Linked DNA regions of Homo sapiens: regions 2 and 3 are each linked to region 1. The links come from fine-mapping of genetic effects on gene expression. A gene starts in region 1. Each other region holds a variant in brackets. All regions are shown on one strand. Distances are from middle to middle.

What was found. PIP is the estimated chance that this variant, and not a neighbour inherited with it, causes the effect.
Region 2: its variant is the best candidate, but not a certain one, in a credible set for the expression of DCUN1D2 in nucleus accumbens (GTEx, PIP 0.77).
Region 3: its variant is the best candidate, but not a certain one, in a credible set for the expression of DCUN1D2 in caudate (GTEx, PIP 0.87).

What each region holds. Positions count from the first base shown.
Region 1 is chr13:113,488,999-113,493,099 of GRCh38, reverse strand. DCUN1D2 (defective in cullin neddylation 1 domain containing 2) reads left to right here and starts at 2,389. Exons shown (of 7, transcript NM_001014283.2): 1 at 2,389-2,433. The coding sequence starts at 2,431. It overlaps SLC9D1 (solute carrier family 9 member D1), which reads right to left and starts at 2,079. Exons shown (of 13, transcript NM_017905.6): 1 at 1,827-2,079. RefSeq lists a silencer at 1,769-2,688 and an enhancer at 2,919-3,218.
Region 2 is chr13:113,877,906-113,882,006 of GRCh38, reverse strand. It overlaps LINC00454 (long intergenic non-protein coding RNA 454), which reads left to right. Exons shown (of 3, transcript NR_047035.1): 2 at 515-659; 3 at 2,675-3,379. Among named protein-coding and RNA genes, the nearest start is that of LINC00454, 3.5 kb to the left of the region's middle. The variant T/C (reference allele first, on the strand shown) is at 2,110.
Region 3 is chr13:113,535,014-113,539,114 of GRCh38, reverse strand. The region is part of intron 9 of SLC9D1 (solute carrier family 9 member D1); the gene reads right to left. Among named protein-coding and RNA genes, the nearest start is that of SLC9D1, 46 kb to the right of the region's middle. RefSeq lists a silencer at 477-665. The variant T/G (reference allele first, on the strand shown) is at 1,928.

The DNA of each region.
Region 1 (4,101 bases):
ATTATTTATGGACCCTTAAAATACAAATCACCTTTATTCAAACTCATTTCATTTTATCTTCAAACTTGCCTCCAAAATCCTACTGACTACTAAATTGTAGCATGTTTTTTGAGCAAATTAGTAAACATCTTTAGCTGTTCTAGTTATTAAAAAGACACTTTGGATTCCTGTAATGTGTTTTTTTTGTTGTTGTTGCTGTTTGAGACGGAGTTTTGCTCTTGTCACCCAGGCTGGAGTGCAGTGTTGTGATCTCAGCTCACTGCAACCTTTGCCTCCCGGGTTCAAGCAATTCTCCTGCCTCAGCCTCCCAAGTAGCTGGAATTACAGGCGCTCGCCACCACACCCAGCTAATTTTTGTATTTTTAGTAGAGACGGTGTTTTGCCATGTTGGCCAGGCTGGTCTCAAACTCCTGACCTCAGGTGATCCACCCACCTCAGCCTCCCAAAGTGCTGGGATTACTTTTTAAATAATGAATTCTTAGAATTTCTGCATCTTGAGCAATTGATACACATAACAATGCGGATGTATCTCAAGGCTGAGTGAAAAAAAATCTCAATTTTATTGAGAAGACACACAGGTGTAGATTCACACTCACTAGTGCATGTATAGTTGGTGCAATCTCAACAGGTCAGGGGATTTGATCAAAGAAAATTCCCCACATATACTATGGTTTTGCAAGGTGCTACCATTGGAGAAAACAGGGCAAAGGCACTCTGTAGGATTTCTCTGTATTACTCCTTACAACTTCATGTGATCTACAACCATCTCAAAATAAAAAGGTTTTCAAATTCTACCTAAGACCAGGTGCGGTGGTTAATGCCACTGCTGTATTACGACACAATTATCTGTATTCCCAGCGCTCTGGGAGGCTGAGGTGGGCGAACTGCTTGAGGTCAGGAGTTGGAGATCATCCTGGGCAACACAGCAAGACCCTGTCTCTATTAAAAATGAAATAATTAGCCGGGCGTGATGCTCCCTGTGGCCCCAGCTCCTGGGGAGGCTGAGGCGGGAGAATCGCTTGAGCCTTGACCAGCCACTGCACTCCAGCCTGGGCGACAGCAAAACTCTGTCTCAACAACCACAAAAAAGCTTTAGAATATTTAAGTCAAGCCTGTAGGAGAAAAAAACTACAAATATTTCACAAGTAATCCAATCATTAAGACACTCCTTTTGAAAAAGCCGGTAAATAAGATAAATTTGGAAGACAGAATAATCAGAAAAACAGGCAGTGAATAGGGACCCGATACGCAGCGGTCTTGCTTCCCCCGCGCAGGCGTCCACACCCTGGGTCATGGACACCGTGAGGAGCCGTTAGGAGTCACAGGAGGGGGGCCAGGGACAGGGCTGCATCTCTGCGGCCGGCCCTGGAGGCCCCGAGTCCACCCGGGCGGCCAGGGTGGGAACGCAGGTTCCATTCCAGGTTAGAACGTGGGCCTCAGCGAAGAGCGCCTAGGCAAGGCCTGGAGGAGCGGGACCCCAGGCCACACAGACCACCCGACCCCGGGAGACAATACCTGCAAGAAAAGGGGAGCCCCGAGGAGAGAGAGAGGGGAGGTGAGCCCCAGGGAGGGAGAGAGAGGAGGGGAGCCCCAGGGAGGGAGGGAAGGAAGGAAGGGGACCCCTGGGAAGGGAAGAAGGGAATGGGAGCCCCGGGGAGGGAGAGAGGGGAGCCCCAGGGAGGGAGGGAAGGAAGGAAGGGGACCCTTGGGAAGGGAAGAAGGGAAGGTGAGCCCCGGGGAGGGAGAGAGGGGAGGGGAGCCCCAGGGAGGGAGGGAAGGAAGGGGACCCCGGGAAAGAGCCCCGGATGGACGGGCCTGGTGCTCACCGGGACGCAGGGATCCGCGCCCGCCCGTCCGGCCCGAGCATCACCGTTCCGCGGCCTGGGCCGGGCTCTGAGGCGCCAGGACCCGAGGGGCGGAGGGGGACGCTGTCTCCCGCCTCGGAGCGCAGCGCCGGAGGGCTTCCTTGCATCCCTTCCCAGGCGGGACCAGGGAGGCCGGGAGGCCGGGAGTCCGGGAGGGAGCGGCCGCCGCCCTGCCCAGCACCGCCCCCGCTCAGCCAAGCCGACCCGGACTCCCGCCCAGCCGCAGTCACTGCCCCCTTTAAGAGGCGGGGCGTGGGCGGGTCCCGTCGGCCGCGGGCGGCGAGCACTTCCTGGCCGGCGTGGGGCCTGGCAGCCGCAGGCTGGCGTTGGACCCCGCAGGGGCGAGCCAAGGCCCTCGCAGAGGGCTGGACGCGCAGGGGCTGTGGGGCGCGAGCTCCCGTGGGCCCCCGGGCGGCGCTGAGCATGCCGGGAGTGGGAGTCCCCGCGGCCGGCTCCCGGCACTGCCCCGGAGCCGAGGGCCGCGGCCGTCCGAGGACGAGGGCGGAGCCGCCGCCGCGCCTGCGCAGAAGGCCGGGGCCGGCCAGAAGCGGGCGGCGCGGGGGAGATGGTAGGTGGCCCGGCGTCGCCTCTGCCCGTCGGGGTCGGGGTCGGGGTCGGGCCCCAAGGTCGGCGCAGGCGGCGCGCTGGATGTGGGAGGCCGAGCCCAGCGAGCTGCGCGGGGCGTTCCGCGTGGATCCGAGGGAGGAACGCGCCGCGGGCCCGCGAGCCGGAGCGGTGGCGTCGGAGGCGCGGGACCGCGGGGAGCGCGGGTTTGACCCGGAGCCGCGAGGGACGACCGGGAGTGAGCGGAGGGCGGGGGCCGGGAGGAACTGTAGGGGCCTTGGGGCAGGGGCCGGGGCCGAGCGGGAACCCAGGCCGGGGGCTTCCCAGGGCGGCTTCGAAACGGGCAGTCGAGGCGGGCGAGGGCTCGGCTGCTCCTGCGGGCGTCTGTGCAGATGCTGAGGCTGTTGACCAAAACAGCGCAAGGAAGGAATCCGCGAGAAGCTCAGATTCGCGGGGGAGGCCCTGCTGCCGGGAGGGGAGGGAGAGGCACAGCGGGGCCCTAGCGCGGGCTCTAGCCGGGAGCTGTAGCGTGGCTGTAGGTGTGCATCTGTGGAGCTGGTAGAGTTCCGCAGCGCAGGAGGGAGGCTGCTGGAGGTGCACATCAGTTACTTTGAAATGTGGTGGAAATGGTGATGGATGGGATTTATTCAGTCCACATCGGTTCAGAGGCCAGCAAGGTGCTGCTGGGTGTGACTGGTGCTGGGCCAGGCATGATCTTGGCGTTGAGGGAGTTGATGCCCCAGCAGGGGAGACAGGCACCAGATGCACAATTGTTTGACCACAGTTGGGACAAAGGCTAAGGCACGGGTTCCAGGAACTTGTAGGATGCGGCTGTGGGAGTGGTGTCAGATGCTGAGGGTGTGAGTTGAACTGTGGAGAATTTCTCTGGAAATTAGCCAGAGAAAAAGTGAGGTTCCGGGGCAGCCAGCCGTGTGCGGCTCCAGGCAGAAGAAACAGAATGCACAGACCCTTAGTGGTAGGCGATGATGACGTATAGGAGCTGAAAGATTGTCCTGGCTAAGGCACAGAGAGCCACCGGAGAAGGGACACGGTAACGTGTAGAGGGGAGTGGAGGGTGAGGACAAGCTTCAGGATGGGAGAAGAGCCACAAAGGAGACTGAGAGGGGGCTGGTAGGAGAAACCAGGACACTAGAATGTGTCGAAACCAAGAGGATGGAGTTTAAAGGAGGAGGGAGCCATCAGCAGTGCTGAACAAAAGAGCAGCTGAAAAGATCCCACTGACCGCAGCAGCCGAGCTTTTGTGACCTTTAGGGGTCACTGCGGAGGCCGGGCTGGAGCCAGGTAGCCTGAGTTAGGATGCACACCTGGGCAGGTAGAGATAGCTTGCTCCAGCTTTTAGGAGGACAGGGGCAGAGTGGACAGGAACTTAGTTTGGGGAAAACTTGAACATGTTCAGGATGCTGGAGAGGAGCGTTCCACTGCTGCCGAGGTTGGAGATCCAAGAGCAGGGATGAATTTAACTCCCCCTCCCTCTAGCGTGCTGTATACCGAAACAGAGTGAAAGTGATCCATAAACTTACGTAGTTTATTCGATCAACATGATTGGCCCGCCAGCCCCGGGTAAGTTGACCCTAAGGACATTTTAAGAGTAATTTCTTTCCATTTTACATATGGGTATCCTTGGTGCCAGATTATATGAGTCGTATTTCAC
Region 2 (4,101 bases), 390 kb before region 1:
ACTCAAACTCCAAACACTAGTCTCTCCCCCATCACAAGGAAAGACAGGCATGGTCCCCCACCCATCAGCGGTGTTGCTGAATCTGGCAGCCACTGTGTTTGTCAGACCTGCCTGCCTTGTTCAGCAGGGAAACCACTTGCTATGATGAATGGAGCTGCATGTGAAACTTAGATAAGCAGGCAGGTCGAAAACACCTCCTGTGCCAGCATTCCAGTTTTCTTGCTTGGCCCAAGAACCTGGTTTCATTTTGGAAGGTGGAGGGAGTGTGTGGCGACCTTGTTGCCATTTTCAGGCATGGCTGGGCTCTCACACAGTCACTCTTAGAACAGACATGTCCCTGCCTGGAGGCCAGGCCCTCTTGGGTTGTGGGAACCAAGCCCAAAAATGTCAAACAAGTGGCAAAACCTTTAGGGTAATTTTCCTCTAACTCAAAAAACACCTGGCCGCTTCTCCTCCCCAGATGTTAAAGGTCCTTTTATTAGCATTGTCCTATTGTGTTTTTTTCATTTCTCAGACACAGACACAGGAAGCATCAACTCTGAGGCTTTGGCCAGGATGTGAGCCCGACTTTCGCAGCCCCAACTGGCAGGCTGACCTCATGTGAACTCCCTGGCGATGGCATCCTGGAGACACCCACATGGCTGAGCTGGCACCATAGGGTGAGGGCACCAGGGCCATGGGGACCGTGGTTGCTTGCCTCAGACATGGCCAGCAAGGGAGGCACAACATGGGGCTGTTGAGTGAATGTGTGAGAGGCTGTGGGTCCCCACAGTCCAGCCACCAGCGGCCTCGCAGCATCATAGGAGTCTGAGGTCCAAGACACCGGACTCACATCTCAACCCTGCCCTGTGCTGCTCAGGGCCAAGTCTAAGCTGCTGTGACAAAGAGGCCCCCACATGCAGCAGCTGCCACAGAACACGGTCATCTGTTTTTCATGCACGCTGTAGCCCTGGTCATTCCAGCCAGAGCCTCCAGGTTTTGTTGCTCTTCCAGGGCACGTTCTGGGCTGTGTGATGGAGGCTGGACTGTGGGCTCCTCTGAGGAGGTAGAGGGATGCGCACCAGGGCCCCCGTGTTGAGGCTCGGCTCCCACCCCATCACCTCTACTCTAGTGAGGCCACTTCCTGCGAAGGTAGCTGGATGCTCCTGCCTGGAGCTGCCCCCGGACCACAGAGCATCCAGGAGATGAATGCACTTCCAGCCCCGCCACCCTGGGGAGATATACAGCTGAGGTGGCAGCTTTGGAGCAAGCAGGGCAGAGATGCTTCCCCCTGAGGTCCCTCCCAGCTCTGCTACCTTGTCACTCAAGGTATGGGTTGGTTGTGTTCCCCAAAAATACATGTTAAAATCTGAGTCTTCAGCACCTCAGAATATGACATCATTTGGAAATAAGGTCATTGCAGATCTAATTACCATAGTGACCCCTTATCCTGGGGAAAATGTTCCAAGGCCCTGGTGGATGTCTGAAACCTCAGATAGTACCTAACCCTATATACACTGTGTTTTTTCCCATGTGTACAGAAATACGATAAAGTTTAATTTATAAATGAGGCACAATAATAGATTAATAACAATGATAAAATAGAACAGTTATAACAATATACTGTAATAAAAGTTATGTGAATGTGGTCTCTCGCTCTCAACATATCTTACTATACTGTATTTTCCCTTCTTCTTGTGATGATGTAAAGTGCTGTAAAATGCCACGTGGTGAGATGAAGGGAGGTGAGAGATGCAGGCATTGTGATGTAGATGGAAAATTCCAGAAATAGAAAATTCCTCAGTGTTCAGTTATATTCTGTTCCGAGCCATCCCATCCAAGCCTGGGTTGCCATTGGCCACTTGGCAGTCATCCTAGTGACCAGATGGGCTGTGGTGTCACAGTGCTTGTGTTCAGGTCACCCTTCTTTTACTTAATAATGCCCCCAAAGCACAAGTGTAGCCATGTAATATTTGTGGAGCGTGGTTGACCGTGAGTGACTAAAACCCAGAAAAGTGAGATGGAAGACAACGAGGACCACTGTAGTTAGGATGAAGTCGTGACTGTGTCCTTATAAGAAGAAGGGTGACACAGGAGCCCATGTGGTGGTGGAGGCAGAGATGGAAGCTG[T/C]GAATCCACAAACCCGGGAGCATCTGGAGCTTCGGAGGCTGAGGAGGCAGGGAGGACCCTCCCAGCTGTTGGGGGAGCACAGCCTTGCTGGCACCTTGATTTTGGACTTCAGGCCTCCAGAGCTGAGAGAAGATACATTTCTGTGGTTTTGAGCTCCCCGGTTTGTGGTACTTTTCCAACTGCCCCAGGACACTGCTGCGCCAATGCCCTTGACCTTCAAGGTTGCATTCTGGCTGATGGAGCTGATGGGCACCCCGGCTTCACTGCCCTTGGGCTCCCACTCTGACTGGCCTGTGCTGAAAGGTTAAAAATAGCTCTGCATATATTAAAATAGCTATGTCAATTCTAAAGGCTCACACAGCTGCTCTAAGTGTCTTGGATACTCTTCAAAATAATATTTATAGGCCTCTTCAGGCTCTGTCGAACCAGCTTTTTTAACATTAATTAAAGCCAAGCTCATTAGTTTGTTTACAAGTTGGACTTGGCACACTTTAGCACTTAACAGGAGATGAAAACTGCAGTTTGTTCAATTTTCTTTTAATAATTTTGTTTACATTTTTGCCAGCACTCATAATCCAGGTTCAGTTTCTGCCAGCACTAATTTGGTTTATTCCACATGGCTGGAGCCACTGCGGGACTCCATTTGTTCCGGGGCCACCTTCCTGTCACCTTTTACTGTTTCTTGAGTCAGCAAGAAAGGCAGATCCGACTGAAGACTCCAGCACTCTCCTCAGCTGCAGCCCCCACAGAGCTCCGCGAAGTCCTTTCTCCCACAGGACAGATCTGAGGCACCCACCATTAGAAGAAAGGAGTGGAGAAATGATATGCAGGAAGAAGGCCCATTCTGATTCACCAATCGCATGGACGCACTTTCCTACCAGGCTAGGAGGGAGGAAAGTAGAGCCCCACCCTGACTGCTAAGCCGTTTGCTTTGGTGTCATGAAAAAAGAGTTCAGCTTCCCAAATCAGAGAGGAAAAGGTTTTCAAGGGGTCCCCTATTTCTATTATGTAAGCTTTAAATGACAAAGTGGACCTCTGGGGCCAACGTGGGTGTGTGATGGTGGTTTTGTGGGATTCTCCCCATAGCCCCATCAGACGGCCTCACCTTCTGGGTCTCAGTGGCCCCAGGTGCAACACGGCTCCTCCAGAAATGATGACAGCCCTGGCGACCAAGGACTCCCTGTGCCACTGGGTTTGCGCTCAGAAGTATATTCAATGATTTCCCCAGAAAATTCCAAGTCATCTCCTAATACTGTTTGTGAAAACTAAATGAACTGTCGTGGTCTTCTTCAGGGACAGTTTGCTAGGAAGGGTGGTTATTGGCATAATTTTCCAAATCAATGAACTAAGTTACAAAACTTTCTCAAAGACCCTGATGGCTGTTACAAAGACAGAAAAGTGAATGGTCAGAAAGAAGTGTGATAATTCACCCAGTATTGGGAGGACGAGGTGGGCGGATCACGAGGTCAGGACATCGAGACCATCCTGGCTAACACAGTGAAACCCCGTCTCTACTAAAAAAATACAAAAAATTAGCCGGGCGTGGTGGTGGGCGCCTGTAGTCCCAGCTTCTCGGGAGGCTGAGGCAGGAGAATGGCGTGAAACCTGGGAGGTGGAGCTTGCAGTGAGCCAAGATCACGCCACTGCACTCCAGCCTGGGCGACGGAGCAAGACTCCGTCTCATAAAAACAGCCTAAGACAACCACACAGCACACAGGCCTTCATCCTTGGCTGTGACGGATGCGTGTCCGTGTGGAGGGCCAGGCCTGTTTCTCCCGTCACTAATGGAAGCCTCTCTGAGTTTCCATGAAAGTCTCCCCCTCAGAAGGGGCTCTCTGGAAATTTTCAATTATGTTGGTTAGGATAGTAATACATGCTTTTGCTTAAAAATCAATGGGTGCAGAAACAAAAGTATAAAGTACAAAGTGGGTTTCCCCTCCTCAGCCAGAGGCAATGATGTTAGCAGGTCAACCCCGATACCGCCGCTCATTG
Region 3 (4,101 bases), 46 kb before region 1:
TATCCATACAGATTGCGCTGAAATTTTTGAATGAGAATATTTTCCAACTGTTTTAAATATTTGTGATACATTTTCTTGACCTTGAATCAGAATAGCCCGGTGGGAGTGTTAGAAACGCATTCCCACTACCAGCCTCAAAGCAGAGAGAAAGCGACAGGACGACAAGCAACAGCCCCGGGAGGGCACGAAGCCAGCGAGAAGCATCGGCGTGTCCACGGCGGCTGATCTGATACCCAGGTTTGCAGCCACATCAGCGCGCCGGCCGGACGGCCGCGACACGGGAGCCTCAGCGCAGCTCTGCGAAACGCAGGCTTATGGCAGCCTTCCGGATGACGCACGGCTGACACCGGCCAACCTGAAAGATGATTTTTATCTTGAGAAAACAAAACTGTAGACGATAGCAGCATCAGACGAAAAGAAAAGAAACTTGTAAAGAACTACGATTTATAATGGCAACAAAAACATCACATCCTGAGGATTCAACCCAAAAGAAGGCCTGCACCTGACACTGCAAGACACAGAGACCCACGAAAGACGGAAGACTCAGATGACAGCGCCAAGGGCTCAGCACGGCGGAGCGGCGGATGCTCCCTCCCCTGGCCAACAGACGCACAGGAGCGCCAAGAGACTCATGTGTGTGAAACTGACCAGCTGAATCTAAAAACTCGAGTGGAATTTGGAAAGAGCACGAATAGAGCCAAGACGACCCTAGCACAGAACAAAGCTGGACCCAAACACGGAGATCAAGCTGCGGTGCAGCCGAGGGCAGGTGGGCAGAGTCAGAGGGGCATGTGCACACACACACACACGCACATGTGCCACGGGTACACACACCACACACAAAGCAGACACACACGAACACATACCACACACACACCACACAAAGCACATATGTATGCATGCACACATGCCACACACACGTACACAAACCACACACCACATAAAGTACACATTCATGCATGTACACATGCCACACCAAAGCACACACATGCATGCACAAACACATACATGCACATGTAACATTCCACACAAGGCAAACGAATGCATGCACATGTACACACATCACATAAAGCATACCCCACACATGTACACATGCCACAAAGCACACACATGTACACACACCACAAAGCATACATGTACACACCACAAAGCACACACATGCATGCACACAGGTACACATGCCATGCACAAAGAACACACACATGCACATGCACGCACACACACACGGCTACTTGGTTTTTGACAGGGTGATGCTATAGAAGGGGGGAAGGAGGTCTTTTCAACGCATGGCATTCAGAAACGCATGTGAATGAATGAATCCTCATCCACTCCCTCACTTCCAACACAACCGAAGCTCACCTCTGGGTGGACTGAAGATCTAATGAGAAAAGCACAGCAGAACGCTCACTGACAACAGTAAAGAGCATCTTCACGACCCAGGGGCAGGCGGATCTTTCACACAGAACACAGAAGATAGCCACGAAGAAAACAATTCATAAGCGATGATGCTGAAATTAAGAACTTCTGTTCATCAAAAGACACCGTTAAGAGAGTGAAAAGGCGAGTCACAAACTGCAAGACATTTGCAAAAACATATCTGACATGCTGGAATGGAATGTTTTTCAGCCATAAAAAGGGGCGAAGTGCTGGTGCGCACGGCGACGCGGCCAGGCCTGGAGGACGTGGTGCTAAGTGGAAGCCAGACACGGAAGCCGCCACGCGACACGGCCAGAAGCAGCGGCCCACGGGGCCAGGAAGTGGCTCCATGGCCTCGAGGAGCTGGGGGGAGAACTGAGCGCCATGGGGATTCCTTTGGGGAGGTGGATATAATTGGGTAGTGGTGATGGTGGCAAAACATTTTGAAGGCTGACTTTCAAATGATTAAAATGGCGAATTTTATGTGAATTTCATCTCAGTAAATAAATTT[T/G]TAAGAAGGACAAAAAAATCTGCCGGCATATAAAAAATAATTCCTACAAATGAGAAGAGAATCCTCACCCTACAGAATAACGACCTGGAGGCTTTAATAGGAACACCGCCAGGACAACACCCAGGTGCCACTGAGCTTTGGAAAGGGCTTGAGGGACCAGCCATCGGGAAGTGGACGCTGGAGCCCCCATCAGAGCCCTGAGATGCTCCACTCCTGGAGCAAGTGCAAGGAGGCTGTGGGGCACGGCGTGCTCACGGCACAGCAGCAGGACGGGCTGGCATGGCGACTTTGGGGAAACCCACGTCATGGCTACGGCTGAGCTCCTGTTTACTGTGGCCCTGCAACCCTACCTCCACAGGCACTCTACTAGGCTCATCAGCAGTGAAAGCACCTTCCAGAAACACGAGAATGGGCAGCAGCTCTAAATGGAAACGAATCCTAAGACTGAACAGTGGAAAGAATACATTGTGGCATCGGGTGCAGATGTGCAGAAGGCCCAGCACCCCAAGCAGCTGGCAGCAGGTGCACGGTGAGGGCTGCCCAGAGAGCGAGAAAACCTGAGAGCCGGGCAGAGTCACTGTAATGGAAGAAGCCACTGGGAGGGCAACACGGAAGTTGTCCAGATAAGACAATTCTGCTGGGAGTTATTTTCAAAGAGAAAAATACTCTGGAATGGATAAAACAATGTAAGAATTTAAATAAGTCACACTCTTGAAATAGTTAAAATCACTACAACCAGAAGCAAATCATAATTTCCTCCCAGGTTTACAAAACATTAGCAGGCAATTATATATAAGAAACAATTTTTGTTAATTTACTTTTTTTAAATGGAAACTTTTTTTTTTTTGAGGCAGTCTTGCTCTATCAACTCTGCCTCTGCCTCCTGGGTTCAAGTGATTCTCTTGCCTCAGCCTCCCAAGTGTCTGGGACTGCAGGCAGGCGCCACCATGCCCAGGTAATTTTTGTATTTTTGGTAGAGACGGGGTTTCACCATGTTGGCCAAGCTGGTCTCGAACTCCTGACCTCAGAAGATCTACCCACCTCGGCCTCCCAAAGTGCTGCGATTACAGGCGTGAGCCACCGCGCCCAGCCGGAAACTTTTTATTTTGAGATAATTATATATTAACCTGCAGTTTTAAGAGTAATACAAAGTCCTCATTACCCTTTAGTTTCCCCAATGGTAACATCTTGCCAAATTACAGCACAAGATCCCACTCAGGTGCTGATACGGACACAGCAAAGACAGCGAGTGCCATCCATCCCCAGTCCCTCCCCAGACCCCGACTCAGGTGCCGATATAGACACAGCAAACACAGCGAATGCCATCCCCATCCCCTCCCCAGACCCCCACTCAGGTGCCGATACAGACACAGCGAAGACAGCGAGTGCCATCCCCAGCCCCTCCCCAGACTGCCCATCCTCAATTCCTGGGAACCACGAGCCTTTCCTCAACTTCAGAATCTTCTCGCCTCATAAATGTGACATAAAAAGAACCACACAGTACGCAGCCTTTGGGGGCTGCCTGCCCACTCTGCGCAGTTCTCGGAGGTGTGTGCCGGTGGTTTTACTGCTGGGTGGCGTTCCGTGGTATGGACATAGCTCAGTTTGTTGAACATTTATTTACCCACTGAAGTACCTTTGGACTGTTTATGGCTAATACGAATAAAGCTGCTATAAACACCTGTGTACAGGCTACTGTGTGAACACGGCTTCATTTCTCTGGGATAAACAGCAGGAAGAGCACCTGCCGGGCTGAACAGTGACGGTGCACAGGTGCACTGTTGGGACAATGGTGACGGTGCCCAGGTGCGCTGTCAGGACTACTGAGACTCTATGGGGGTCCAGGAGCATCTCCCGCCACTCTCATGTAAAGACTGTCGTCTCGGTAAGCAGAAGCCCACTTTCCAAAATGAACTTTATTTTTTAACCTTTCACATGGCAGAACTTATACAGTTAATTAGCTTGTGAGCAACACAGTTAAAAACTGTTTTTCCAAACTTAATTTTGTATTTCAGGTGCAAAGCTATTTGAAAATTTAAGACAGAGTAGCATGGTTTGATATTAGTGTTTATGGCGCTTTTTATCATCACAGTTTTGTTTGTTTTGATATGGGGTCTTGCTCTGTCGCCCAGGCTGGAGTGCAGTGGCACGATCTTGGCTCACTGCAAGCTCCG